Homo sapiens: one gene and its partners. The protein of the gene in region 1 purifies or fractionates together with the protein of each later gene. This does not show direct contact. Each region holds a gene or a part of one and is shown in the gene's direction. Other genes may lie near its edges. The genes, in order: ANGPTL4, PM20D2, AASDHPPT and NMT2.

Region 1 (7,786 bases):
CTCAGCCTCCCAAAGTGCTAGGATTACAGGTGTGAGCCACCATGCCGGGCCCCAGCTAATTTTTTTTTTTTTTTGAGACAGAGTCTCGCCCTGTTGCCCAGGCTGGAGTGCAGTGGCGCAATCTCTGCTTACTGCACCCTCTGCCTCCCGGGTTCCAGCGATTCTCCTGCCCCAGCCTCCCGAGTAACTGGGATTACAGGCGCGCGCCTCCACGCCTGGCTAATTTTTACATTTTTAGTAGAGACCGGGTTTCACCATGTTGGTCAGGCTGGTCTCGAACTTCTGACCTCACGATCTGCCCACCTTGGACTCCCAAAGTGCTGGTATTACAGGCATGAGCCACCGTGCCCAGCCTGGCCCCAGCTAATTTTTTAAATTTTTTGTACAGACAGGGTCTTGCCATGTTACCCAATCTTGAACTCCTGGGCTCAAGCAGTCCTCCCACCTTGGCCTCCCAAAGTACTGGGATTACAAGCATGAGCCACCTTGCCTAGCTTAATGGCATTTACATTTGTAGTGAAATACACATAACAGGCTGGGCGCAGTGGCTCATACCTGTAATCCCAGCACTTTGGGAGGCCGAGGTAGGCGGATCACCTGAGGTCAGGAGTTAGAGACCAGCCTGGACATGGCGAAACCCCGTCTCTACTAAAATACAAAAATTAGCCAGGCGTGGTGGTGGGCACCTGTAATCCCAGCTACTCGGGAGGCTGAGGCAGGAGAATCATTTGAACCCAGGAGGTGGAAGTTGCAGTGAGCAGAGATTGCACCACTGCACTCCAGCCTTGGCGACAGAGCAAGACTCTGTCTCAAAAAAAAGAAAAAAAAAAGAAAAGAAAAGAAAAAAAAGAAAAAGAAAAAAAGAAATATACATAATATAAAATTGGTCATTTTAACAATTTTTAACTATGTTGGCCAAAGTAGCCCACGCGTTGGGATTGGAGACCCGGTCTTGCCCACCGTGATCGCCCCAGTACAGTGCCTGGCATATAGTAGGTGCTCCAGGAACAATTGATCAGGATGACTTTGTCTTTGCTGGGTAAGAGGCCACATTCTAAAGGTCAGTTTTTGGCCAGGCACAGTGACTCACACCTGTCATCCCAGCACTTTGGGAGGCCGAGGCGAGTGAATCCCTTGAGCTCAGGAGTTCAAGACCAGCCTGGGCAACACGGCAAAAATCCTGTCTCTACAAAATCTACAGAAATTAGGCAGGTCTGGTGGCACATGCCTATAGTCCCAGCTGCTTGGGAGGCTGAGGTGGGAGGATCACTTGAGCCTGGGAGTTTGAGGTTGCGGTGAGCTGTGATTGTGACACTGCACTCCAGCCTGGGTGAGTGAGACCCATCTCAGAAAAAAAAAAAAAAATACATAAAACAGGGCTGGGCGTGGTGGCTCATGCCTGTAATCCTAGCACTTTGGGAGGCTGAGGTGGTGGATAGCCTAAGCTTAGGAGTTTGAGACCAGCCTGGGCAACATGGCGAAACCCCACCCCCTCTACTAGAATACAAAAAATTAGCGGGCGTGGTGGTGGGCACCTGTAGTCCCAGCTACTCAGGAGGCTGAGGCAGGAGAATGGCGGGAACCTGGGAGGTGGAGCTTGCAGTGAGCCGAGATGAGGCCACTGCACTCCAGCCTGGGCAACAGAGCAAGACTCTGTCTCAAAAAAAAAAAAAAAAAAAAGGCTAGGCCAGGCACAGTGGCTCACACCTGTAATCCCAGCACGTTGGGAGGCCGAGACAGGTGGATCACCTGAGGTCAGGAATTTGAGACCAGCAGAGCCAACATAGTGAAACCCCGTTTGCACTAAAAATACAAAAAATTAGTCAGGTGTGGTGGTGCACACCTGTAATCCCCGCTACTCGGGAGGCTGAGGCTGGAGAATCGCTTGAACCTGGGAGGCAGAGGTTGCAGTGAGCGGAGATTGCGCCGTTGCACTCCAGCCTGGGCGACAAGAGGGAAACTCCATCTCAAAAAAATAAATAAATAAAATAAAAAATAGGCTGGGCGCGGTGGCTCATGCCTGTAATCCCAGCACTTTGGGAGGCCGAAGCGGGCGGATCACGAGGTCAGGAGATCGAGACCATCCTGGCTAACATGGTGAAACCCTGTCTCTATTAAAAATACAAAAAATTAGCTGGGCATGGTGGCAGGTGCCTGTAGTCCCAGCTACTCGGGAGGCTGAGGCAGGAGAATGGCACTAACCCGGGAGGTGGAGCTTGCAGTGAGCCGAGATTGCGCCACTGCACTCCAGCGTGGGCGACAGAGCGAGACTCCTTCTCAAAAAATAAATAAATAAATAAATAAATAAATAAATAAATAAAAAATAAAGAGCAGTTTTTAGAATAAAATCTAGAGCCAACTTGAGGCGACAGTATAGACTCTTTTGTAGATTGCTCACAGCAGGTGCCCTTAAGACCCTGGGTCTGTGATGTGTTTTGTGCTGTGGGACACATGGCTCCAAAGAAGTCCCTGAAAATCAGATCATGAAAAGGTCATCAGGTTGGGGAAGTAATTGATCAGTTCTCTCAGTTTAAGAAGGTGGGGAAGAGGAGGAGCTTGCATTCTGGGATAGCCTGGGATAGCTGTGTCCCTACTCAGAGAGAGGCTGGGGGCTTGGGGGTGGACAGGCCAGACGGTGACCATCTGAACCTACTCCTCACTGGGGTTTTCCTCCCTCCCTTTCCTGTCCACTGCTGCTGGGAGGGATTTGCTGTCCTGGCATCTGGCCCAGCTGACGGGGCCAAGTGTATGAGTGGCAGCCTGCACGTCAGCCCTTGGGTGTGCAGTTTCAGATTCCAGAGAATGAGCTGGCTTGGAGCCCTGCTGAGTCAATGCCCTTCTCCTTGCCAGTGCTCTGAGCCAACCTGCCCCGAGTTCTTCCTGGCAGGCTGGTTTTCTGTGCCAGCCTCCCCTTCCTGACAGGGTATAGGGGAATGGGTAGGGAAGAGGCAGAGGAGATCGGTGCAAGTTTGAATGAACACTTAGCCCTGTGGAATGAATGTGGTCCAGCCCTTTAGCCTCACTCAGTACTTCCTTTGTCCCAACTCTATCCCTACCCCAGGCTCAGAATGTTGGGGTATCTCCACCTGCCTGAGAACTTCAAACATACAGGGGCTGGGCTTAGAGGGCAGCAGCACCTTCGTTCAGTGCATGAGTGAATGAATGAATGAGGGAGAGAAAGAGGAAGGTCTTCCATGTCTGAAACTTTTTTTTTTTTTTTTGACACACAGTCTCACTCTGTCACCCAGGCTGGAGTGCTGTGGTGCAATCTCAGCTCACTGCAACCTCCGTCTCCTGAGTTCAAGCGATTCTCCTGACACAGTCTCCCGAGTAGCTGTAAGCACGTGCCACCACACCCGGCTAATTTTTTATTTTTAGTAGAGACGAGGTTTCACCATGTTGGCCAGGCTGATCTCGAACCCCTGACCTCAGGTGATCCGCCCCCCCCCCCCTCCCACCACCCGGCCTCCCAAAGTGCTGGGATTACAGGCGTGAGCCACCGCGCCTGGCCACAGACTTTTATTTTATTTCTTTTTTAGAGACAGGATCTCACTCTGTTGCCCAGGCTGGAGTGCAGTGGCACCATTGTGGCTCACTGCAGCCTCTACCTCCTGGGCTCAAGTGAGCCTCCCACCTCAGGCTCCCAAGTAGCTGCGACCACAGTCATGGGCGACCGCCCTGGTTCCTCCCTTCCTTGTGTCTCCTCTTTCTGTTCTCTAAGTTCCTGCTTTATTATAGGCAAAGCTCAGGACATTAAAGACCCTGGCGGTAGAGGGTAGGCTATGGGGGTGAGGCCCTGATCCAAGTCCTGCCGCTAAGGCACTCATAATTTCGGGCTCAGGGGAGAAATGGAAGTCAAAGAATCTCATAAACACAGCTGCGATGACGAACCCTTTCACGGGAAGGAACATGCGAGCCCAGAAAAGTCTCTCCTGGTCTTGGGATGGAGGTCACACGAAGCCTCCGCAAGGCAAGGACTTTTGGTGAGTTCCGGGCTCCGCTGAACTCAGCTCTTTTTCTTTTCCTTCCTTTCTTTCCTTCTTCCTTTCTTTCCCTCCTTCCTTCCTTCCTCTTTCTCTCTTTCCTTTCTCTCTCTCTTTTCTCTCTCTCTCTCCTTCTTCCCTCCCTCCCTACCTCTCTCTCTTTTCTTTTTCCGTCCTTCCTTCCTTCTTTCCTTCTTTCTCTCTCTTTTCTTTCTTTTCTTTTCTTTTCTCTTCTTTCATTTTGAGACGTACTCTGGCTCTGTCGCCCAGGCTGGAGCGCAATGGCGCCATCTCGGCGCACTGCAACCTCCACCTCCCGGGTTCAAGCGATTCTACTGCCTCAGCCTCCCGAGTAGCTGGGACTACAGGCGCGCACTACCAAGCCCGGCTAATTTTTTTTTGTATTTTTAGTAGAGACTGGGTTTCACGATGTTGGCCGGGCTGGTCTGGAAGTCTTGACCTCAAGCGTGCGCCCTCTCCGCCACTGGGTAAGGCGGGGGCGGAATAGGGGGCTTGCAATTTCACACTAGAGGCGGGCACCGTGGGGGAAAGAAGAGTCACGTCTCCCACGGTTCGTAGAGGAAGGCCTGCCTGAGCCTGGAGCGGGGGCGGGAGAGCCACAGTTTGGCATCCCCAGGGCATCCCCCAGCCCGCAGACTACCAGGCCTCCAGAGGACAGGACCCCACCCCCGGCCACAGGCCCTGCCCCCAGCACTCCCCGCACCCCGCCTCCAAGACTCCTCCGCCCACTCCGCACCCAACTTATAAAAACCGTCCTCGGGCGCGGCGGGGAGAAGCCGAGCTGAGCGGATCCTCACACGACTGTGATCCGATTCTTTCCAGCGGCTTCTGCAACCAAGCGGGTCTTACCCCCGGTCCTCCGCGTCTCCAGTCCTCGCACCTGGAACCCCAACGTCCCCGAGAGTCCCCGAATCCCCGCTCCCAGGCTACCTAAGAGGATGAGCGGTGCTCCGACGGCCGGGGCAGCCCTGATGCTCTGCGCCGCCACCGCCGTGCTACTGAGCGCTCAGGGCGGACCCGTGCAGTCCAAGTCGCCGCGCTTTGCGTCCTGGGACGAGATGAATGTCCTGGCGCACGGACTCCTGCAGCTCGGCCAGGGGCTGCGCGAACACGCGGAGCGCACCCGCAGTCAGCTGAGCGCGCTGGAGCGGCGCCTGAGCGCGTGCGGGTCCGCCTGTCAGGGAACCGAGGGGTCCACCGACCTCCCGTTAGCCCCTGAGAGCCGGGTGGACCCTGAGGTCCTTCACAGCCTGCAGGTACGTGTCCCCAGGGCTGGTTCTCCGCGCCCCTAGTGGCTCTCCTGGCTTGGAAGGGTATGGACAGGAGTGGGGCGTGGGGGCGGGGTGCGCAACTGTGGCTCCCTGGGCTTCCCTGCGTCAAGGGATGGGCTCCCCCCTTAGGAAGCCGAGGAGGGAGGTTCGCTCAAGGCCAGGAATTCAAGACCACCTAAAGCAAAATAGCGAGACCCCCGTCTCTTCTACACACACACACACACACACACAAAATAAATAAAATAAAATAAAATAAATATAAAATTAAAAAACGACCGGGCGCAGTGGCTCACGGAGCCTCCACCTGCTGTCGAGACTAGCCTGGCCAACATGGAGAAACCTCGTCTCTACTAAAAATACAAAAAATTAGCCTGGCATGGTGTGCATGCCTGTAATCCCAGCTACTTGGGAGGCTGAGGCAGGAGAATCTCTTGAACCCGGGAGGCAGAGGTTGCAGTGAGCCGAGATCGCAGCACTGCACTCCAGCCTGGGCAACAGAGTGAGACTCCTCAAAAAAATAATAGCGATAAAATAAAAATAAAGCCAGGTGCGGTGACTCACGCTTGTAGTCCCAGCACTTTGGGAGGGCGAGGCCAGTGGATCACCTGAGGTCAGGAGTTCAAGACCAGCCTGACCAACACAGTGAAACCCCGTCTCTACTAAAAATACAAAAATTAGCTGGGTGTGGTGGTGGGCGCCTGTAATCCCAGCTACTGGGGAGGCTGAGGCAGGAGAACCTCTTGAACCCGGGAGGCGGAGGTTGCAGTGAGCCGGGATCATGCCATTGCACTCCAGCCTGGGCGACAGAGCTCGACTCCATCTCAAAATAATAATAATAATAAATAAAATAAAATACAAATACAAAAATTAGCCAGGTGTGGTGGCAGCTACTTGGGAGGCTGAGACACAAGAATCACTTGAGTCTGGGAGGCAGAGGTTGCAGTGAGCCAAGATTGCGCCACTGCACTCCAACCTGGGTGACAGAGCGAGACTCTGTCTGAAAAAATAAAAAATAAGCCAGGCATAGAGCTGCATGACTGTAGTCCCAGCTACACAGGAGGCTGAAAACAGGAGGATCGCCTGACCCCAGGAGTTGGAGGCTGCAGTGAGCTGTGACAGCACCACTGCACTCCAGCCTGGGCGAGAGAACGAGACCCCGTCATTGGGAAAAAAAAGAAAAAAGAAAGACTCCCTTGCCTGGCCTCAGCGGATGGAGATTTGGAAGGATGGATGAGTGGATGAATTAAGAGGTTGGGGTAGGCAAGCTGGGTCCTCACCAAGGTTTTCACCCCTCCCCAGACACAACTCAAGGCTCAGAACAGCAGGATCCAGCAACTCTTCCACAAGGTGGCCCAGCAGCAGCGGCACCTGGAGAAGCAGCACCTGCGAATTCAGCATCTGCAAAGCCAGGTAACCCTAGGATCAAGGGAGAAAAGGTCCCTCTGATAGCTGGACCCCAGGTTGAGAGGGAGGTGGTGAGAACTGGACGTGTGGCTGGGGACGTGGGGCCAGGCAGGACCTGACACCCTCCTCCCGTCCCATCCTAGTTTGGCCTCCTGGACCACAAGCACCTAGACCATGAGGTGGCCAAGCCTGCCCGAAGAAAGAGGCTGCCCGAGATGGCCCAGCCAGTTGACCCGGCTCACAATGTCAGCCGCCTGCACCGTGAGTGTCTGCCCCTCGATGCTCTCCGGTGGCCACCCCTACCCCGCCACTTGCCATTGCTGGTCCTCTCCTTGTCAGGTCCACCTTAAGGAGAAGATGTCCTGGCCTGGAGTCCCTGAGGGCTCACCAGTCTCTGGGTCAAAGCTGATGGGAGCACCTCCTTCCTCAGCCCTGACCTGGCCCAGCCAGGCCACCCAACCCTTCTCCTCTGCAAGCCAGTGGGCTGTCCCTGAAGCCCTGCTGATCACTGATTGGAACAGAGGTGGAGAAAGAGGTCTTGAGGGACTTGAGCTGCAGGGGTGCTGGAGAAGGTAGAAATGGGGTTCGGGGTGCCATCCTGAAGGTTAGAACCTTCTAGGGGAGGGTGTCATGGAGGAGGGGGTGCCAGGTAGTAGTGTTTGTAGATTTGGGCCCTCCACAATGTCTTGGGGTATGTGGGAATTAGGGCTGGGAACCCCCAGCTCCCAGACCAGAAACACTCTTGTATCTTACAAATCCAATGCTCCAGGTCCCTGACCCCTCTTCCTCCTTCCTCTCTTGTTCTCCTCCTCCCTCCCCGCCCCCGCCGGCCCCCTCCCCACCGCAGAAAGTGGGCTTTTGCTGCCACCACAAGTTGTAGGTGCTTTATTCCCAAATCTCCGTTCATCTCGAACCACAGCATGTCCACGTGTGTCCGATGCAGACTCGCGGTTCTCTAAGTTCACGGCCCCACACGGTTTCTCTGTGGTCCTCATCCTTCCCTGCATCTGTGGCTGTCCACAGCCAACTGGGTGAAAGTTTGGATCCCCCTCTCACACCCTAGGGTCAGTGGCAGGCTTCCAGCACTGTAGACCTGAGGGTTCTCTC
Region 2 (7,956 bases), on another chromosome or scaffold:
ACCTCCTCTCCACGTGTCTAATGCACATCCATCAATTTGCCCCTCACTCTCTTATTTCCCCTATTTTGTTTCATGGCTTTACCATTCACTCAGCTGTTAACCCGAGAAACTTCAGTTCTCTTTCCCCCTTTCTCTGGAGCACCTTCTTCACCTAAACAGACATTCAGTGAGGAATTAAGTCTGGCCATTTCTGCCCACGGAATGTTTCTGGAATCCTTGGACTTTGCAAGAGCCTTTTATTTATTTTTAATTTTTTAAATTATTTTTTAAAGACAGAGTCTCACTCTGTCACCCAGGCTGGAGTGCAGTGACACAATCTTGGCTCACTGCAACCTCCACCTCCCAGGTTCAAGTGATTCTCCTGCCTTAGCCTCCTGAGTAGCTGGGATTACAGGCGCCCGCCCCAACACCCAGCTAATTGTTGTGTTTTTAGTAGAGATGAGGTTTCACCATGTTGGGCAGGCTGGTCTCAAACTCCTGACCTCAAGTGATTCGCCCATCTCGGCCTCCCAAAGTGCTGGGATTACAAGCGTGAGCCACCACGCCTGGCCTGCAAAAGCTTTTAACTTATCTCAGACCTAAGTCTGTTTCCAATTCATCTTCCAAATAGTCATCAATTATTCTTGTAGAACAAATTTCTGATCTTGTCTCTCTCCTGCTTAATAACATCCAATAGTTTAGCCATTGTCCAAGTTTTATTTTACTTTGAGACAAAAGTCTCACTCTGTTGCCCAGACTGGAGTGCAGTGGTGCAATCATGCTTACTGTAGCTTTGACCTCCCGGGCTCAAGCGATCCTCAAACCTCAGCCTCCAGAGGAGCTGGGACCACAAATGTGTGCCACCATGCTTGGCTTATTTACTATTTATTTTATTTTATTTTATTTTTTGTAGAGTCAGGGTCTCCCTATATTGTCCTGGCTGGTTTTGAACCCCTGGGCTCAAGCTATCCTCCCACCTCAGCCTCTTAAAGTGCTGGGATTACAGGCATGAGCCACCAAAACCAGCTAAAGTTGTAATTCCTTAGCAATGTGTTGTACACTTCCTCTATGTCCCTTCATCCCCAATCAAATTCACCTTTCTGCTCACCTACTCTCTTAGTTGTCTGCTTTCTGCCATATGACAACCAGCTCTTCCAACACCTTAGCCCAGATTGATTTTACATGTGCTATCTAGTGCGTGTTACGTGTTTGTTTCAGCTAGAGAAGTTTCTGGAGTTAACCAAGTTTGCATGTGTGTCTGGGGATGCTTAGGAGAATGTTGTAAATGACCAGTATACCAAAGTGACACTGTGATTTGCTTCTTCTCCATGCTGGCAGCAGCAGTCCTCAAATCGTGCAGTGGCCAGCATTTTGTTCAGGAGAAAATTGCTGTAGTTCCAAGTATTGTTAAACTGAAACGATGTAGGCTGGATTCACATGCACTTTTGGAAATATCATATATTTTGAAGGTATTATAAGTTTGATTTTTTTGGTGAAATATCTGCACTCTCTCCTTGGATTAAATCATTTTTGCACTTTTTATTCCTTTCCCCCACAATTATTATTATTATTATTATTTTTTGAGACGGAGTCTCGCTCTGTCACCCAGGCTGGAGTGCAGTGACGCGATCTCGGCTCACTGCAAGCTCCACCTCCCGGGTTCACGCCATTCTCCTGCCTCAGCCTCCCGAATAGCTGGGACTACAGGTGCGTGCCACCACGCCCGGCTAATTTTTTGTATTTTTTAGTAGAGACGGGGTTTCACCATGTTAGCCAGGATGGTCTCCATCTCCTGACCTCGTGAACCACCCACCTCGGCCTCCCAGAGTGCTGGGATTACAGGTGTGCGCCACCGCGCCCGGCCCCCCACAATTATTTTTGTTTGTTTGCTTTTCATTCCTGAAATCCTGCACTGAAGCTCTCTGGTACTTCTATTTACTTTTTCTCTACCTTTAATTTTCTTCATTTTATTTTTCATTCCATTCCTTTTTCTGTTTTCAAAAACTTTTTTTTCTCATTTAGCTCATGCTTTGCCATGAGCTCATGCTTTGCCATGTTGGGGATTTTATTTTATTATTTCTATCTTAATTCAAAGAATATAAACCATACAAAAGCCTGCTGCCTTTTCAAAAGGAGTTCTGAATCTGAAGCCCAAAATAATACCCAGTATAGTTGTACAATTTGGCTGTATTTTAGTTGCTTTTCCAGGGTAAAGGAAATTTTTGATCTACTCTTTCCACCACAGCACTCATTTGTCATGAATGTCCTGTTCTCAAAGTTATTGAGTCAGTTGTGATGACAGCTGGTTTTCTAAGCAGCCAGGAAAGAAGAGGAATCTTTATATATTTTTTCCCCTTTTTTCTCATCAGGAGCCAAGAAAGAACATTTATATACTTTAAAACCAGTCCTCAAGAGAGAACTATCTGCACTCCTCTCACCCCCCCAAAAAGGTTATACATCTTAATACTAAATTCTGGATATTGTATTGTTTCCTCAGATCCAGCACCAGCTAAAGGAAGGGAGCTTGTATACATTTTTTTTTGTTTCTAATAAAAACATACAGGTTCCTTACCAGTAGCACATAGATAGGGTAGACAGTTGTATGAATATTATGGGTACAAATGAAAGTAATAGTAAGAATTTATGAGCTGACCAGATTCTAGAAAGCCACATGTCCAACTCCATCAGCTTCCAGAAGCAATTCTTCCTGCCCCCAGCTCCACATAAAGGACTGAGAAGTCTAGGAAGAAGCATAACAATGTCTATTGGTAGTCAGTGTCGTTTAATGGTTAATTGCTGCCATTATTCAGTTAGTTTATTAGATTCAAGAAGAATAATCAGCCAACAAATATTTATTAACACAGAGGAAATGCTGACCATAAGATGTTAGGTGCTGGGGAATGCAGTGGGAAAACAAAAGAGTTTAAAGCCTGGAGGGGAAGATAAACGGTCAGCAAGTTATCACAGTTTATCAAATAAATGAATTCAAGGGTGCAAAATACCATGAGCAAGAAATACAAGGTGTCAACAGTAGAAACTGAATACATACGTGCCTGTGGGCATGTATACCCACCCACCCACCCACATATATACACAAGGAACAGAGCTTGAAATGAATCTGTCTTTCCTCTACCTCAAGTGGCAGCTTTGTTAATTCCTGCAAAGCAATATAAATAGCAGCTTCTATATGAAATTATATGCATCCCTTTTCTGTTGCTGTTTATTGATGCCTGAGGAGGGCAAACATGGGTTCTACTGATGTCAGCAGGCAGAGTTGCTGCAGTAAAATTTATTCAAAATGAGTGTTGTGGGTTCTGATTTGAATAGATAAACTGGAGATGCATTTATGAATTTGCATGTCTGTTTACACAAGCAATAGACCATGGTGGCTGAAAGTCAGCCACTGGAGGCTGACTCTGGCTTCTGTTCTACAGTGGGTCCACTACTTACTAGCTCTATAATCTTGGACATACATCTGTAAAATGAAGATAAATAACCACATTAACCACCTCATAGTTTGCTGTGAGGATTAAATGAGTTAACAAATGCTAAGCCCTTGGAACAGTGCCTAGCACAGAGTAATTGCTCTACAAATGTCACCTATTGCTTTTGCTCTCCAATCCCCCCTTCTCCCCTTTTTTTAGCCAACTAACTGAGCAGGATAATATTGGATCTCGTGGATACAGGGTAATTTTCTTCAGCAGAATACCAGAGAAAGATTTATTATCGCCAAGGGGGCCCAGGAATTTAATAACACATTTGTTGTTTTTAGAGCTGAGTTTTTGTTGGAGTGTTAACTGAGAAAGAAAGTTTTCAGACGTGAATGGAATGTGACATTTACTCTGGTATTATTAGCATATAGAGTAGTAAAAACAGTAGTTGATAGTCTTCGTGCATGTTAGCTTCCCTTAGACTTATTTTCAAAATATTCATTTGGTTTATCACATTAATATATTGTGTCCCATTTAACATAGTTGAGACAAATTAAGGAAAGATGATAGGGTATGAAGAGCTGATAGAAGCTTTTAATATGTGGAAAACCTCAGAATATAAACATCTACAGTGTTATTAATAGGCATACCGTCAACAACAGTTTTTCAGACTTTGTGGTTCACTCTGGAGAAAAACAAGAGCATGACATCTTGAATTTCTTCACTGGGTAATTAAAAAACTCAGTTATAATGTAACACCAGCTGCACATATCATGTTAGTGGAGTTCAGCATCAATTAAAATTATAAACGAAACCTGTCATATGTTCCCTTTCAAAGCTGTTCAAGACAACTGTCCAAATCAACAAAACAGTATGAATATTTACTACCATAAATCTTTTAACTCTTTGGTTTTAACTCATTTCAAATTTTTAGTTCTACTCTATTCAAATAAATTATTATATAATAGCTAATACATACCAAGAGCTTACTGCATAATCTAGCTGCTGTTCCAGACATTAGTAACCAATGAGAAAACTGTAGAGAGTAGCTGCAGCTTTTAGTAATACAATGTCAAGGAGAAGAAAGTGGGGGCAGTACCGAAACTTACGTACAGTACCGTCGTTAGTACAGCATTGACACTGACGGCCTCCTTCAGGAAATACAAACCTTGTGAGGTTTTAATTACTAATGCTACAGAGTGGCGTTTTTCCGAGGACTGTGTTCCACTTGGTCTGTCTCTGATGGCTATTAACTAATAACCGTTCTCATTCTGCTGCTGTGGGAAATAAGCAACAACGGAAAAGTAATCGATAATCTTAGAGCATAACTCAAAGGCCAGAGCAGCCAAGGAGGTGGAAGAGTCCCGAGCCCTGCCTTCTCCACAGCACCCCCAAAACCCCACGGCGGGGCAGAGCGCCTGGTAGGGTACGAGCGGCCGCCAGCGTTTCCCGCGCGGCGCCGGGGGCGGCCCCGGGACTGGGGGTGGTGCCCTGGGAGCTGTGTGGCCGCGTGCGCGCTCCGCCGGGGTCCTGGAGGCCTCTGGGCGCGTGCGCGGGCGGTCGCTACCTGCGGCCGAGCCAGGGAGCGAGAGGGCGCAGAGGGCAGCGGGCTTGGGCAGCATGAGGCCCGGAGGGGAGCGGCCCGTGGAAGGGGGCGCGTGCAATGGCCGCTCCGAGCTGGAGCTACTGAAGCTGCGCTCGGCGGAGTGCATCGACGAGGCGGCCGAGCGGCTGGGGGCCCTGAGCCGCGCGATCTGGAGCCAGCCCGAGCTGGCCTACGAGGAGCACCATGCCCACCGCGTGCTGACGCACTTCTTCGAGCGGGAGCCGCCCGCGGCCTCCTGGGCAGTGCAGCCGCACTACCAGCTGCCCACGGCCTTCCGCGCCGAGTGGGAGCCGCCGGAGGCCCGGGCACCGAGCGCCACGCCACGCCCGCTGCACCTGGGCTTCCTCTGCGAGTACGACGCGCTGCCCGGCATCGGCCACGCCTGCGGCCACAACCTCATCGCTGAGGTCGGGGCGGCGGCCGCGCTGGGCGTGAGGGGGGCCTTAGAGGGCCTCCCCAGGCCGCCTCCGCCCGTGAAGGTGAGGTGGGGCCCGGGTGCGGGACCCTATCCGACTGCCCGGGTCGGGGGCGACCCGGGAAGGGCGGGACTCTCGTGCGTCCCGCGCGCCTCGGTGCCCTCCCGCCCGGGGCAGGTGTGTGTGGGACCGCGCTAAACCTGCGGTCCTCGCCTCGGCGCAGGAGCAGAGCTGAACCCCCAGTCAAAGTCAGTTCGCGTTGCCGACCTGGCGACATCTTGCAGATTATTGTTTCCTCCTCTCTAGTTATAAACAGCTCTGCTGAGTTGTTCCCTTAGGAAAGAACTTACACCCAAGCCTGGTGTTTGTTACGGGTTATTTTTGGTAACTGAGAGAGGCAACAGCAATTTGCTGACAAGGTTGTGCCATCAATCTCAGGAGGAAATAACTTCTTGTAGGTAATCCTACGGCCCCTTTTTATTCGTCTCCAAATAAATCTTTTGTTTGTGGCAGTCCTAGAAAATGTGATTCAAGTCATTGGTATTTGGATAGGAATTTTCAGTCGCTAGAACCACCAGACCCCTAGAAGTATACAAATAAAGGGGAAGTGAATGAGCATTATACATAGATGAGTTCATCCTTAAGTCTTAATTTTTTTGTTTTATGATTTTAAGAAATACCTCGACTCTTTAAACAGGGAAATGTCGTTTATGTTTGTCGTAGGGCAAGTTTAATCCTGTTTTACTCTGCTTTTCCAGATGGTATATTCTACACTATGAGCTAAGATTCAATCGTCATTCAGTTAAGGGGAAAACAAATGTTTTATTTTCATACTCTTTAGTTCATTTCCCCCAGTGTCAGTAACCTTCCTCTTTTATCCTAACACTACATCTTTTGTGGCTTTTTCACTTTAGCTGCCTTCTTTTTTCTGTCTCTGGAGGCTCGTTTTTGCATTTGTTAGGTTTTTGTTTGGGTTGGGGGAAGCATGCTTTGCCATGTCACAAACACTGGAGAGATTTCGCTTCAACCACGTTTTTAAAGGTTCTGAGTAGTCAGCGAGAGACATATCGTATTTAATGAGTTAAGGGTCAAGAATGAAGAGCGGTGGGCAGATCAGTTGAGGTCTGGAGTTCGAGACCCGCCTGGCCAACATGGTGAAACCTCTGTCTCTACTAAAATATATTAAAAAAAAAAAAATTAGCTGGGCGTGGTGGCTCACGCCTGTAATCCCAGCTACTCGGGAGGCTGAGGCAGGAGAATCGCTTGAACCCAGGAGGCAGAGGTTGCAGTGAGCCGACATCGCGCCACTGCACTCCATCCTGGGCAACAGAGCGAGGCCTCCTCTTAAAAAAAAAAAGAGCGGCGGCTTCATGTCAGAGTTTGAGCACTGTAGAACCGCCAAAAAAAAGCTAAACTTTGAGAAATGTACACTCTTTTTTTTTTTTTTTTTTTTTTGAGACAGTCTCATTCTGTCGCCCAGGCCGAGTGCAGTGGTCCTATCTCGGCTCACTACAACCTCCGCCTCCCGGGTTCAGGCGATCCTCGTGCTTCAGCCTCCTGAGCTGGGATTACAGGTGTGTGCCACCACGCCCAGCTAATTTTTGCATTTTTTAGTAGAGACAGGATTTCGCCATGTTGGCCTGGCTGGTATCGAACTCCGGATCTCGGGTGATTCGCCCACCTCGGCCTCCCACAGTGCTAGGATTACAGGCATGAGTCACCGCTCCCGGCCCACTCTTCTAACTTCAAATGGTTGTTCTCAATTTTAGCAAGGTTAAGTTATTAATTATCTGAAAATGGAATTTAAGTTGATTTCCTTTGCAAGCCAAGACTTTTCCAGCTTGTTTCATTGTGTTCTTATACATGATCTTGAAAATATATTAGTTGTTTATTTTGATTTTTAAAATTGTTTGAAGCAGTTAAGCTTAAATATCAAAGTAAAATGTTTATTCTGTAAAGTTCTCTTTTGTTTAATTAGGTGTTTGGTGACCAATAAATCTGCCTGGTTGAACTGGTGGAATCGAATTAGTAAGTTTGTGTAATAGTTGGCTGTTTCTAACTGTGGCATTAAGACTTGTTTAATGTTCTTCATAAAGGATTAATGAGTTCAGACTTTTAAAATAGGTAGCCCAGTAAGGAATCAGAGTTTAGGCCAGAAGATCAGGACATCTAATCCTAATTCTGCCTGAAGACTTGCTCTGTGACCTGGGGCAAGACACTTCACTCAATTCCTCAAAAACACCCCCTGTAAAATGATGATAGAGATCACCCACCTACCTCACAGGGTTGTTGTGAGGATAAGTAGTAAGTTAACAGAAAGTTTCTGACTCGTAAAGTACTTAAGAATAATTATATACATACATACACTGAAAGGCTTAGTCGAGAGGAACCTTTTTGAAACAAATCCTAACAAATTTTGAGGGACTAAACTTGTAGTATTTTTTTTTATCTTTGCCATTAGTTGACTTGTAAAATTGGGAAAAGCTTTTTATAGTGTCTTTAGTACATACTTTGCACCAAGTTG
Region 3 (7,161 bases), on another chromosome or scaffold:
TGATAATTTAAGTAATTTGGCTAAGATCATATAGCAAGTAAGCAGGGAGTTGGTATGTGAACTCAGTTTGGCTCAAGAGCCCTTGCTTTCAGCCACTACAATATTAGGGAAAGCCTTTCTGAAGTGTCATTTGAGAATTGAATGATAAGAAGGTAAGGGGTTGGTGGAAGAAATCACATATAAAGCCCTACAGGGGTAAAGGAGTCCTTCAGTTTTAGGAAATTAAAGGCGGCCAGTGTGGCTGGAGTAGTTAATGAAAGGAAGAGGGTTAGGAGATAGGGCTGCAGAAGGCAGTTGCTACCTCAGTCAGGATGCTATGGGTCACAGGAGCTGGGATTTTATTCTAAGTGAAATAGGAACGACTGATTACTTTAAATTGGACAGTGACATGACATCATTTTTTTAAAAAATATTTTTCTAGCTAATATGTCAAGAATGAATTGAAAGGAGGTAAGAGAAGTAGGGTCCAAGTCATTCATTTATTCAACAAATATTAGACAGTTTATGGAGTAACAAATATTGTGGCAGGTACTATTCTAGATACTAGAAATACAGCGAAAAACAACATAGACAAGGTCCTCTACCCTGGAGTCTACTTTAGAATGCCGAACACCCCCCCCCACACACATACCCCTTCCTTCTCATACATTAAGAGCTTCTCCCACCCTACTAGACATTTTCCATTAGCATGCAAATTCTAGTATCTTCCATCTTTAAACAAACATCAAACAAAAATCTGTCCTTTGACCTTTTATTCCCTCTAGCTACCATTCCATTTTTCTACTTCCTAAATCCAGAAAAACTTCTTTAAAGGACACTCTGTGGTAGCATCACCTCCAGTTATCGTCTCAACCCACTACAATAAAATTCCTTTCTTTTACTCCATTAAAACTGCCCTTGTCAATGTCACCACACTACCATCTTGAAGGTAAATTCTCACTTCTCTCTCCTCATCTTATTTCACCTCTTAGGATAATTCACACTGTTAACTAGTCCTTGAAACACTCGTCTTTTAGTTTCTGTGCCACAACATTCTTCAGGTTTCCTACCTTGCTGGCCTCTCCTTCTCAGTCTAATTAGAGGGCAATGTAACATAAGAATTAAGGGCATAGATTTCTAGATTTAGCTCTGAAAGCAAGTTGTGCTTATGGCATAGAAGACATTGGAAGAGAGTGCTCCCCTTTCTCAGGCAGGCTAGAAAACTGATTAGTATTTCAGATGAAAAATGATGGTGGGTTATACTAGATTGTTAACAGTGGGAATAAAGAGAAATAAATGGATTTTTCTGTATTTTAGAAATAGAGCCAAAAACACTTGGAGATGGATTGGATATAGGGAGTCAAAGAAGAGCAGCATCATGGTTTCTTCCTTGAGAAACTGGTAGAATTATGGAGCTATTCAAATAAGTCTTGGGGGAAAAAAGAAGGGTTTGAGGTAGAATAAAGTTTGTGACCCAATAAAAAGTTAGTGAGTATATCTAAAAAACACCTAGACTTAGAGATGATCTCATCCGATGCCTTTCCATTGAAATTAATACATGGAAGAGGTTATGTCACACATAGGATCCTGTGTGACCAATGTCACACAGACAATTGGTGGTAGAGCTGGAAATAGAATACGAGTCCCTCAGAATCCTGCTAAGAAGCCACAGATCAGCACCAAGCAAGATGATCATTACAGACTGAGTGAGCCCCTATTACTTTAGTCCTCTTCTTCCCCTGACCAATGCAGTAAAAAATATTTTAATAAAATTGTTGGGTTCATTTAATATAGTTAAGCAAGTTATGAACTGCATATTTATATTTCCTTAATAAAAGTGAGGGAAGTAAAGGCAGATAGAATATAAAAAGCAGTGTTACCCTTGACAGTAATAAATCTATTGTGGAGTCATTAATAACATTTACTCATGTATACTATTTGTAAAAGGTATACATGACATTCCCTCTCAAGTACTGTACATTCTATTTTGCAAGATAACACACATGAAAATAATTCAGGACAATAGGAGAGACGTCATAAGGCAATACTAGAATAACTGCCAAATGAATTACATAAACAATACTGTTTTGGAAAAAGGTACTCTGAAGTAGGCCCTAAGAGAAGGTTTAAGCTAAGCTCTGGAGAATTTGTAAAACCACACAGGGAAGGGGATTAAACAAACCTATAAAATATGTTCACAGGGTGATAGGTTTGGGGCTGAGGTTTGGAAGTGGAGAGAGTAAGCTATTTTAGACTAGGTGAACAGAGACATTCTGTTTGGTATGAGATTTGGGCCTGAATGATACAGAGGAAACAAGGAATGTGATAATGGGAGAAGGGGAGAATATTCTAGATTCTAGACCAAGTACAAATAATCCCTACGTTACTGTCTGTGTATTAGGCTCCATAGATCTAATACACAGAGATCTTGCTCGATGGTAAAATAATGGGATATGAATTCCTGAATTTAAACAAATTCTCTTTCTGAGCTCATTGTCTCCATCAGTAATAACTAGTGCACAGAACATGTGCAATAACGTACACAGAAGTGTTTTGGAAACAGAAACGTAATGTATCAAAGTTATAAAAATCAGTTTAAAACGACAAGAAGGAAAGGTTATATGATTCTTAGTTAAAAATGGAGAAGTGAGTTATGATCATTGCTGATATGGGTATTAGTATCACTTACGTATCTTTACACTGTCTCTTATTGTACTTTTTATGCGTATGATTTATTTGCCTTACCAGATTGTAAGCTCCCTGCAGCTGGTAAGCAGATTTTCAACATGGCAGCTGACACAGGCTTTTGGTTAGCTAAGATGATATATTAAGCCAATAATTCGTTTTACTGTCCTTTGGGGATCTGAATTTGTGTGTGTGTGTGCTCAGAATCCCATCTACTTTCGAGGGATTCGGGGGGCTTATGATATCACGAAAAGTTAATGAAGACAAGTATAGATAAAAACATAATAGAACCCATCTTAAATAGGACAGAAATCATAGGCAGGTAATTGTGTTAATTACTACCGCTGGCCTTTGGCTGATATTTCCGGGCAGTCAGAGGAAGAAGGAAATCGGCTGAATCCCGCAGTACCGCACTTTAATCGACCTCCAGGTAGTCATTTACAGTCATCTGCAGAGACCAACTTTTCCCTGGACCAAAACCTGCAGGGCACTTGGATCGCGTGGGCTTTCATACGAGAGTCAACAACAGCCTACACGGAACAACTAAGGAAACAGACATACATCAATATGACCCTTCGCAAAGTCTGAGAAAATAACTGAGCAAAGTTATTTACTTGTTTCTGTTGCTGTTAGAGCAAGGACCTCTGTCATGATGGAAACACTGATACCTCAACAATGGAATCCTGTTTTCTCGCTAGTGCTCTAGCCCAGGCTTGGCAATAGCAAAACAGCACCTGGGTCGCTTCATCGCCCCAAATAAACAGCCAGCATTAGCTCAGCTGCTCGCTGGCAGCCTCGGATCCAGGCGGGGTCAGTGTTGCGCACTGGGGATAGTGCCTCTGCTCGGCCTTCGGAGGGAGGGTTTCAGGTAGGCTGCTGCTAAGGGTCGGGAGCGTACTGTGTGAGGGTGGGTCTTAGGCTGATGCGGATGGGGGCAGGGAAAGAAGGAACTCAGGGCTGATGCGTTGCACAACTGCAGGGGGCACCACTGCAGACCCCCTCCTAGAGATGGAAACCTCTCGTGCCCCGTACACGAAGCAGCTGAAGCCAAGGACATTCTCTTCTCTGTGGGTCACAGGGGCCAACTCAGACCCTGAGAATAAGGGCTACCATCCCACTCCTCCCTCAGACCCCGGAGCTCACCCACCTGCAACTGCAGTCTCCGAAGTCTCCACCCCAGTCTCCCTGCCTCCAGAGGACTGGTTGCGATTGGCCTGCACCGCTGTCCCGTTAACTCTTCCGCAAGTGTGAGTGGCGTAACTGTCGGGCTCTTGGCCTTGGTCCCGCCCTTCGCTCGCCTCCGAAGCCTCGCCTACTTGACGTCATACAATGCCGCAAAGCGCAGGGCTGATCTCCGTCTCCGCCCCCAGCTGCTTTCTCCGAGAGGAGGTGGCTGAGTCGGGGGCGGGCTGGGAGGGCTGTCGGTGGGCCAGTCTGCGTAGCGACGGCCCGTCCCCTGCGCACGGACGCCGGGAAGAAGGGGGTGGGGCCACGTTTGCGTCCGCGCCATCAGGCCCGAGATAGCGGCGAGGTCCGCTTTCAGTGTATGGTTTTCCCTGCCAAACGGTTCTGCTTGGTGCCATCCATGGAGGGCGTGCGCTGGGCCTTTTCCTGCGGCACTTGGCTGCCGAGCCGAGCCGAATGGCTGCTGGCAGTGCGATCGATTCAGCCCGAGGAGAAGGAGCGCATTGGCCAGTTCGTCTTTGCCCGGGACGCTAAGGCAGCCATGGTACTACAGGTCTTTTTTGGTATTTAGAGCCTAGGAAGCAGATCTTGGGGGAGGCGGGCCGGGCTGTGGAGACCCGACACTCCCGCGCTGGCCGCGACCCTCTCGCTGTGGAGCCTGTGGCCGGCCCGGGCGACAGCAGCCGGCGCTGCGGAGTTGTGGGCGACGCACGGCCTGGTTTCCACGGCCTTTGTAACCGCCTTGGAGGCCGCGATGGCTGTAAACATTATCTCTTTCCCCTTGTTATTTCAAATGGAGACCCTCCTAAACCATGAAATAAGTGTAGGGAAGGCCGACAAAATTGGGTTTTTCTGTAATGAATGTTTTTATGTCTTTATCTTTAAATGTTATTTTTTTTTGTTTGTGTGCGTTCATAGCCTATGCTTATTCTGCCTGTTAAATATCCCATCATTCTCCAAGGACTCCCTGCACGTGGTAGGCCCTAGAAATTATTGACAGTATGATTTAGTTTGTAGCCCTGCGCTCCCCGGGATTGAAGCCAATGAAATTGAAGCCAGAGAGGATACCTTCCTCACTAGATGCCATGGGAAACAGTATTTTACGTAGATTTATTTATTTTAGCTATGTATTTTGAAGCAACAAATGGAAAACTGGATTTCAAAACAAGTAATCTGTACAATATGGTGCAATTTGAAACAACCGTGAATTACCATCATTTAAAAGACAGTCCTTTCTTAAAAATGTCCCATATTGAAACACTTTCTGTTTGAAATGTAGACTAGTTGATAATTTTTAAGGCACATTGGTGAAAATTTTTTACTCATTTGTAAGGAATTGTAAAATAAGCTACATTTAAAAGCCTGCAGTTTTTAAAAGTCAGTGTTAGAATTGAAGAAGAAAAAAACCTGAAAGATATTTTTAAAAATATATACTTTGTCATCTTATATTCTTGTTTTTTTGTGTGTGTGTTTTTAGTAATTATTTAAAAAATAATAATTGGAGGTGGGAGAGAGCAGAACAAGATAGGTCATGCCTTGCTAATTGTTGAAGCTGGGTGATCAATATATGGGATCTAGAAATACATATGCACAGATGTAGGTACAGTAGGGTTGCTCACTGCAGAGTTGTTTTTGACAGCAAGTCTAGAGCCAGCCTAAAATGTCCAATAAAGGGGAAATAATATTATGAAATATGCTACAGTTAAAACTGCATGGACCAGACGTGTGTGTACAGACATAAAATACTTCCCAATACTTATAAATTTAAAGCTTATATGTGGTAGAATACTGCATAAGTATAATCTCATGTTTGTGTTTATATGTAGAGTTAGCAAAAACATGTAAATGCACATATATTTAAATACAGAAAAGACTGACAGGATGCCAGCTGTTAACTTTGGTCACTAGCAAAGGAGAGGGAATTGCTAAGGCGGGCTTTAACTTTTTATCTACTTAAGCATTGCTTAAGTCTTAATTAACGTGTGTTTAATACTTAAGTATTTTGAAAAGTTTTAAAAATGAAAATTTTAGAAACCAAAAAAAAGTACTATTGCATACAGTGTGCTTGTATCTTTAGTAGACATCAGTACATACCAAATGTTTTATGTACTTAACAGGCTGGTCGTCTGATGATAAGGAAATTAGTTGCAGAGAAATTGAATATCCCTTGGAATCATATTCGTTTGCAAAGAACTGCAAAAGGAAAACCAGTTCTTGCAAAGGACTCATCGAATCCTTACCCGAATTTCAACTTTAACATCTCTCATCAAGGAGACTATGCAGTGCTTGCTGCTGAACCTGAGCTGCAAGTTGGAATTGATATAATGAAGACTAGTTTTCCAGGTAACGTTGCATTTTTCTAGTATGGCAGTTAAGTGTCTCGATGCCTCAGTTCTATTGCTATTGAGTAATCTCAGGCCAGGAGATGTATTAGAGATATTTCAGTTTAGGGAAAATGTGCTTAGTACACAAAGGTAATGGAGAGCATAAATCTGAAAAGGGTATATTTCCATGAATATTTACAGACTTACACATAAATAATAGATTATCCGTTACTGGGGATCCATAACTTTGCCTAGAGGTAAAGTGAAATATTAAGTGAAATTTTTTTTGAATTATACTTCAATTTATTTCACTTAAACATTAACCACAATTTTTCAGTTAATTGTTTGTTTTTTAAAAAAGAATCTGAATAGTAAAGTACATTGTAGTCCTTATGTAGAGATAACGTATACAGTTGACACATGAACAACACAAGTTTGAACTGCATGGGTCTACTCATGTGAATTTTTTTCAGTAGTTGGCCCTCTGTCCCCATAGATTCTGCATCCACAATCAAACGTGTATCAAGATTCAGTATTTGCAGGATATGAAACCTGAGGATGTGGAGGGCTGACTTCATATATGCAGGTTCCATAGGGCCGCATGCGCAGATTTTGGTATCTGAGGAGGGTCCTGGAACCAGTCCCCAGTGGATACCAACGGGCGACTCTTTGTTCTGCATCTAAATACATCTCTTTTTAGCCCATTTATGTAAGTAAAAATGAGGAGCAAGCATTATTAAAATATTTAAGTTGCTTATATATTGCCTTAGAAATTTGTTAGTGGTGGCTTTAAGGACCACTAACATTTGTGGTGAAGTTGAATGTACCCAGGCAATTTAATACATACTAAATACAGGTTCTCTTAACTGCTGTATATTTGTCATCATCACTAACATTTAATGAACACTTAACCACGTGTCATGGCATTTTACATAGTGCTTTAGACATATTCTGTGATTTAATTCTCTCAACTACCCTATGATGCATA
Region 4 (7,413 bases), on another chromosome or scaffold:
CCCTTCTTTGTTTCCTCCTCCCTTTCCTGATTTTCCTCTATCTCTTTCCTCTTCTTTACCTACTGCCCTCACTTTCTTCATCAGTTACTTTCTCCTCCATCCTTTCTTCCTGAAAGGGCCAGAAGCTCTAATTGTGGACAGGCTAGAACAGATCCTTTTGCCTCCTTTAGTATTTCTACTTCGAGTAAAAATGTCTGATGAGACAGTGTACTTCTGTAATATATCATCCTTATCAATAAAATAACTAATGAAGTTTGGCAATAAACTATCCAGTGATATACTCGTGGGGAAAACCTGAACACATTTAAGGAGTTTGGCAAGCAGTGCAGTTTCAAGGTGACCCTATTTATAGAATGGAGGCACCTTCCACCTCCTAAATGAACACATACTTCCATCTGCTGTGGCATTGTTCGGCTTCCTCTAGAATTTTCCTTGGCATCACCCGCAAGCCCCAACTTGTCCTACAGGGACAAGACACAGACTCACCAACTGTGAAGTTCTGAAATGCAGCTGATCTGCAATACTCACTGTGGCACCAACCTGCTGGTTTGAACAAGTATGAAAACCTTTTAGCAGAATACCAAGCAATAGGAGGTGCAAATTACCCTCACAGTGACCACGAGAAAAGCTTCTCCAACGCACAGTTGCAAATGGTGCAGGGTAGTTACCGGGTTCCTCAAAAATTAAAAAGAAACGGAGTCACTTAAAAAATAAAATAAAATCCAGCCAGACTCTAAAGCAAACCAGCTAGCAAGAATAGCTAGTGTATTGCAAAAGTAATGGGCTTTGCTTTTGTGAACCCAGAATGGAAAGTGCAAACTAATGGTTTGGCATAAGTCTTTTTCAGACATACCCAGATATACAGATAGTGATCGTGATAGTAAAAAAAGGAGTGTCTTTAAGATTTTTTTTCTTTTTTTCTTTTTTTTTTTTTTTTTTGAGACAGAGTCTTGCTCTGTCACCCAGGCTGGGGTGCAGTGGCGCCATCTCGGCTCACTGCAAGCTCCACCTCCTGAGTTCACGCCATTCTGCCTCAGCCTCCTGAGTAGCTGGGACTACAGGCACCCGCCACCACACCCGGCTAATTTTTTGTGTTTTTAGTAGAGACAGGGTTTCACCGTGTTAGCCAGGATGGTCTCAATCTCCTGACCTCCTTATGCGCCCGCCTCGGCCTCCCAAAGTGCTGGGATTACAGGCGTGAGCCACCGCGCCCGGCCTAAGGATTTCTTTTGGTCTTTGTTTTTCTGTAAGTTGGTTAGTTATTACTGCATAATAAAGCACTCCAGGCCGGGCGCAGTGGCTCACGCCTGTAATCCCAGCACTTTGGGAGGCTGAGGCGGGCGAATCACTTGAGGTCAGGAGTTTAAGACCAGCCTGGCCAATATGGCAAAACCCCGTCTCTACTAAAAATACAAAAATTAGCCCAGCATGGTGGCGGGCGCCTGTAATCCCAGCTACTTGGGGGGCTGAGACAGGAGAATCGCTTGAACCCAGGAGGCGGAGGTTGCAGTGAGCTGAGATTGTGCCATTGCACTCCAGCCTGGGCAACAAGAGTGAAGCTCCGTCTCAAAAAAAAAAAAATGGTTAGGATAGTACGTTTTATGTTGTATGTATTTTTCCAAAATTAAAAAAGAAGTTAAAACAATTTAAATGAAACAAGACCAATTGTACAACTATAATCTTACATCTGTAGTAGGAGTGGGCCAGGCAGAATAGAAAATTCCCAAAGGCCTTTTAAAATACACTGGCAAGATACTACTTAGCCCAGGGCCTGGTGGCTAGGCTGGTTCTCTCCTTTCCAATTGGAGGCCTCTGCCGCAGACACGCTCCACCAGATCATCGGTCAGGCCAAGAAGCATCCAAACTTGATCTCCCTCTTAGTATTTATTGGAGCTAGAGGTACTGGAGCAGGACTGTATCTCTTGCGTCTGGCATTTTTCAATCCAGATGTTAGTTGGGACTGAAAGAATCACCCAGATCCCTGGAACAAACTGGGTCCCGATGATCAATTCAAGTTCTACTCAATTAATGTGGATCACAGCAAACTGAAGAAAGAAGGTCCAGATTTCTAAATGAAATGTTTCACTATAAAGCTGCTTTAGACTGAAGGTCTTCCAGAATCCGTCCGCACAATTTTCCACTTCACCAGGAAATAGTTCTCCTCTAAATGAATGAAATCATGTTGATGTAATCTATTGGAGATTACACTGATTAATAAATAACTGAAACTTGAAAAAATAATACACTGGCAGCCATTTCACAGTGCTCCCATCCACCAAATAAACTTTAGATCTAAGATGCTGGAAGTTGCCACTTGGTTCCAATTCTCCAAATTCTGAAATTAAGCCAGGGAAATAAGTAAAAATATTTAGAAACATAGTGTTTCTATACGGGACAGTAGGATTTAGGAAGCCCCAGGGTCATCTGTAAACTTTTCCTTCCTTCCAAAGATTAATGCTGTAAAACATTTGTATTATATAATACTTCAATCCAGTACTGTACCGATGTACTTCAATCCAGTACTGTACCAACTTGTTTCCATTCTGGGGAACAGATGTTCCCTGTTTGTCATTGTTTTCTAGTGTTTCACTGGTTTTTGATGCCCTCATTTTATTTTTCCAGGATTATTTGTTTTCTTATTCTTTTTTAGAGCAGTTCTTAGTCAAAACTTCTTGAAAATTCAGATAAATATATGACTGCTGAGTTTCCTTTGCCTTAAGTTTTAAAAACTCTTTTAGAGAACCCTTCTGGCAGGTTAGAGTGGATGATTTGATTGATAGGCTTGCTCCTGGCCAGTTTCCTGTTGGTTACCCGAGCGGGCTGCGGGTTCTCCAACAATCCATGTTCACAGAGATGAGCTGCAGGAACCTCACTCATCTGTATTTGCTTCTATCCTAAAGTTTCACAGAGGTGACATGTGACATTTTGCCTCAGAAATAGTTGCCGTTGTTAAAGGCAATATTGTATTTCCTTTTGTGTTTTGACCCCATTTGCCCTTCTTACAGAATTTTAGTTGTCTCAATGCCAAACAGCTGACGGGCTTTGAAATCGCTCTGCAGTTTTCATCTTTTGATACTTCTAGCTCATTGCGTTTTAAAAACATAGTCTCCCTTGGGGAAAAAAGCCATAAAATGCTCCTAGTATCTTCTGCAAAAAAAGGACCCACACCAAAAAATTCAGGTGGCTCTTTAAAGTCTCATTTTCCTCACTGAGCGGGTTCTGATGATTATCTTTGCAAAACCACTGCGGAGACTTCCGGTGGCCTAGCAGCACATTTGAACAAGATCATCTCAGCAAAGCAAAGGACAGGACTGCTCTGTACAGAATGCAGTAGCAAATAAGAGAGGCTGAACTTCACCGGTCTTCTATTTGGCAGTACTACAGAATGCCTCCCTTCCCTCTTCTGAGAGAGACAGCGGACAATTTCAGCACAGAAGGCCGTGCACGTTTGCTTGGAAATCTAGGTCATGACCTTGACTTTGGGAAAGCCAGGGTAGCCTACCTGAAACTGTCCAATCCCCCAGCATCGTGGACACGTCCCCAAGTCCCTCAAGATGTCTGTTCTGGTCTGAGCCGTCCGTAGTAGTGTCCAGGGAAAGCAGGGGTAGCTCAAAAATTTCTGTCAAGAGTTTTAGTGCTGCAAGCCTGGTTGGGACAGGGCGGTGGAGGGCTGGAAATACTGTTTTTGACTTTGAATTTGATTTTATAATGTATTAGATGGATAGATAGATGCGAAATGGAATTGTTAACATGTATGTGGAGGGGCGGGAAGAGTTTCTGGAAAGCCCCATCCCTGAGTGCCTACTCCTGAGTGGGAAAAACCCCTGCACGGGCTGGGAGCGCTCCCTAATTCGTCCAGAAGTAAAATCGCATGGCCTGTGTTCCAAAAATGCCGCCACTCAGGATGTCAAGTCTGCACGTTTGCAGCTTTGAGAGCCGAGCCCCAGGCAGAGGCACCGCGCAGGCCTGGATGTACAGGACTCGGCCCTGTGCAGGGCTGGCCAGGGTGAGCAGGGTTGGAGCTGGCGGGGCGGGGAGGGGCGGGGCCATCTGGGAGGGGCTGCGGCGGTGGGCGGGGTTAGAGGGCGGGTTTGAAGCCGGCAGGGTGGGGAAAGGCGGGGCTGGAGGGGAGGGGTCTCAGAGGCGGGCGGGGTTAGAGAGCTGGATTGAAGCCGGCGGGACGGGGAGAGGCGGGGCTTGGTGGGGAGGGACGAAGAGGTGGGCGGGGTTCAAGCCCGTGGGGCAGGGCGGGGCCGGCGGGCAGGGCGGGGCCGGCGGGCTGGGCGCGGACGGTGAGGGGCGGGGATGGAGGGCGGGGCGGGACGGAGGGCGGGGAGGGGGCGGGACGGAGGGCGGGACGGGGCGCGGGCGGGGCGGGGCGGGGCGTAGCGCCCGGGCTCCGACTCCAAGCAGTACGGCGGGAGGCACTAGAGGGAGCTGCGGCCGCTCCGGCCCGGCCCCGAGCACCGCCTCCCCAGCCAGCGCCGCCGCGATGGCGGAGGACAGCGAGTCTGCGGCCAGCCAGCAGAGCCTGGAACTGGACGACCAGGACACGTGCGGGATAGACGGGGACAATGAGGAGGAGACGGAGCACGCCAAAGGGTAGGGGCGGCGCGCTGGCGCACCGGGCGCGACAGGGCGGGGACCGCGCGCGCCACGGTCTCCCGTTCGGGGGTGGCTCCCAGGACTGGGGGTTCTTCGGCCGCTCCGCCCCGCGATGGCTTCTCCGTGGCGCGGAGCCCATGGTGAGGTCCGGGGCGCGCGGCTCGCGGGAGAGTGCAGTGCGCGGGGAGGCGAGGCCCGGGGTGGGCGGGGAGGCTGGGGCCCGGGCGGGGAGACGCTACTGTCACTTGCCGCGCGCCCCCGGCCAGCCTCGCCCATCCCCGCCGGCGGCCTGGCCCAGGAGGCGCCTGTTGCCCTCGCCCGCGGGTGGCTCCGGTGGGCGCCGAGGAGAGGCGCTACGCCCTTCCCTTTGTGGCGGCCGCAGCCTGGGGTAGGAGGTCGCCCTCCTCTGCTCCCTGCCATCCTTGTTAAGTCCCTTCAGACTCCCTCTCCGCAGCCGCCACCCGAAAAGAATGGGCAAAGACGTGGGTGGAGCGGCGTGGAGGTGCCCCGATGGTGTCGGGGCCGCAGGCGGCGAACTGCGCAAAGTTCTGGCGCCGAGGGGGTCCCGGGCCCGGCCCCTGCTGGGGATACTGGGCTTTGCACCGCCTCGCCTGTCCCTAGAGCTCTTCAGAGCAGGGCCGATCCCCTGAACCGGGCTCCCGCTGACCTGGCCGTATCCTGTTTGCAAAGCTGGTATTTGATCTCCAAAACTCGATGCACCACGCATTTTCACACTTGATCGGATTTCTTAATCCTTTCCCTTTGCCCCCGAACCCTGCAGACTTGATTTGCTCTTCTGTTGGAGAAAAGGATTGCTTCAGGTGAAGGCCGGTGTTGATGCTCTCTTTTTAGAGGCAGTGGGTCATTTTAAATAAAAACTGGTGTCCTTTTAAAGTGCTGTTTACATTACCCTTTTACCCTATTGGATTCAAACTATGCGCTGGCACAGAGCGGTTCTTGCTACACCCTTAGAAGTGAGATTTTTCGAACCATGGTGAGTGATGGAGAAGTGGGTCAGCTTAAAAAACATGATAGGGAGGCCTGAGTCACAGATGGTTTACTCAGTTCGTAGAGAGATTCTTGAAATGATTGATCATTGAAAGTGTAAATCATTTGCATTCTACTTGTCTACTTTAAGATTTATTATAGAAAGGGACTTTTGACTGACCTCTAATTCATTATAAAATATTAACAAATGAAGAAAAAGAAAAGCTGACTATGTGCATCTCCCATTTGCAAGTTGTTTTTATCTTTGCCGTGAATACTTCAGTGGCGGCTGCAAGTATCGAATGTTCGAGTCTAGAATATTTTTTTTTTTAAAGAGAGGAAAGGAAATTGCATAGGAATCTGAACCTGAGCCCTGTTTATGCAGGGATAGAAACGTGTTTGTGATAGATAGCTAAATACAAATATGTTTTTGAAACGGTAGTTCTATTGCCAGAAATGGGCCCAGGTGCAGATGCAAGCTGATGGATTAGCTTCAGTACCTGTGTTTTCTTTCTGGAGAGACCCTGGACTTTTATCTTCTCTGCTGTAATTTCTGTTTATTGTTCCTCCTTTGATTGATATTCTAGGTTGGGGGCTTGATTAGGACTTCTTTGCTTACACTGTTGAGAATGCCCCTGGTACAAAGAATTCCTCATCTGTGTGCGCATTGATCTGAGCCTGTCCCCCGACACCTTTCAAGAAGCTAAAGTTCCCAGAGTAGCACCCAGAGGCATCTGTGCTGCCTTCGGAAGTTTTCAGTTTTGTATATCAGCACATTTTATATATTAGAAAGGTTAATCAAAATTTAGAGATGCCCCATGGACTGAAATGTTTTCACCAAGAGCAGATACCATGTTAATAGCTTCTAGTGGGAAAAGATTAACATAATGGATGTATTGTACTCTATTTAAATGTAAGGAGATTAGGAAAACTCCAAATGACTGCTCTCCTTGGATTGCCTGTTTGGATTTGAATTTAGACAATGTGTGCCAAATTTGGGGGAGTAAATGTGTTTTATTTGGCTCATGTACTGATGATATCGCAGTAGAAACCTAGGTTTTCTTTAAGTAGCTCAAGTTTGTAAATGTTAAAATTTGAAAGACTCTTTTTCTATACTCGGCCTCTTCATTCCCATCAGTTTAAATAAATAACAAATAATGAGCCTTTGGATGAATCAGTAAGAACATGTTTCACCTCTTAAAGGCAGTTTGTCAATTTGAGGCCACCAGGCAGCGGCCAGTGCAGAGAGGTAATTTACTGAATAGTGCCCTTGTGGCCTGAAAGAATTCATTTACCCCACCACTCAGTATAATGTATTTACTAGTCCTTTTAGACATATTAAGTTGAAACTAAAGCCTCAAATAAAAGGAAAATACCCAATTAGAGTCTTGTTTTGCACCAAAATGTAAGTATTTAAATATGTAAAACTGCATATGCTGTTCTTTTATTTTCATGGAATTTTCTTCATGGACTAAAAAGGGTATTTCGTTTTATAGATAATGCTAAGAGTCCATGAATGAAATATCAGATGTTTTATGTTTAATTAAAAGCAATGGCGTAAGTATTATAAAATACTTGAGTCTCACTGTCTTTATATCTTGTTTTTCATGGAAAATGTACCTTTTTTTTTTTTTTTTGAGACAGTCTTTCTCTGTCACCCAGGCTGGAGTGCGGTGGTGCAATCTCGGCTCACTGCAACCTCCGCCTCCTGGATTCAAGCAATTCTCCTGTCTCAGCCTCCTAAGTAGCTGGGATTACAGGCGCGTGGCACCACACCCAGCTAATTTTTGTATTTTTAGTAGAGATGGGGTTTCACCATGT

The links.
Region 2: the proteins of ANGPTL4 (region 1) and PM20D2 purify together in Homo sapiens (affinity purification with mass spectrometry; 2 studies listed by BioGRID and IntAct, with this or other methods). This does not show direct contact.
Region 3: the proteins of ANGPTL4 (region 1) and AASDHPPT purify together in Homo sapiens (affinity purification with mass spectrometry; 2 studies listed by BioGRID and IntAct, with this or other methods). This does not show direct contact.
Region 4: the proteins of ANGPTL4 (region 1) and NMT2 purify together in Homo sapiens (affinity purification with mass spectrometry; 2 studies listed by BioGRID and IntAct, with this or other methods). This does not show direct contact.

What each region holds. Positions count from the first base shown.
Region 1 is NC_000019.10:8,359,380-8,367,165, forward strand, and holds the start of ANGPTL4 (angiopoietin-related protein 4 isoform a precursor), read left to right. Parts: upstream 1-4,775; 5' UTR 4,776-4,942; coding exon 4,943-5,260; intron 5,261-6,574; coding exon 6,575-6,685; intron 6,686-6,822; coding exon 6,823-6,940; intron 6,941-7,786. UniProt on the Homo sapiens protein: Mediates inactivation of the lipoprotein lipase LPL, and thereby plays a role in the regulation of triglyceride clearance from the blood serum and in lipid metabolism. May also play a role in regulating glucose homeostasis and insulin sensitivity.
Region 2 is NC_000006.12:89,141,115-89,149,070, forward strand, and holds the start of PM20D2 (xaa-Arg dipeptidase), read left to right. Parts: upstream 1-4,940; 5' UTR 4,941-5,030; coding exon 5,031-5,495; exon of another isoform or gene 5,496-5,752; intron 5,753-7,410; exon of another isoform or gene 7,411-7,956. UniProt on the Homo sapiens protein: Catalyzes the peptide bond hydrolysis in dipeptides having basic amino acids lysine, ornithine or arginine at C-terminus. Postulated to function in a metabolite repair mechanism by eliminating alternate dipeptide by-products formed during carnosine synthesis.
Region 3 is NC_000011.10:106,073,501-106,080,661, forward strand, and holds the start of AASDHPPT (L-aminoadipate-semialdehyde dehydrogenase-phosphopantetheinyl transferase), read left to right. Parts: upstream 1-4,161; 5' UTR 4,162-4,210; coding exon 4,211-4,393; intron 4,394-5,966; coding exon 5,967-6,192; intron 6,193-7,161. UniProt on the Homo sapiens protein: Catalyzes the post-translational modification of target proteins by phosphopantetheine.
Region 4 is NC_000010.11:15,165,692-15,173,104, reverse strand, and holds the start of NMT2 (glycylpeptide N-tetradecanoyltransferase 2), read left to right. Parts: upstream 1-4,411; 5' UTR 4,412-4,492; coding exon 4,493-4,602; intron 4,603-7,413.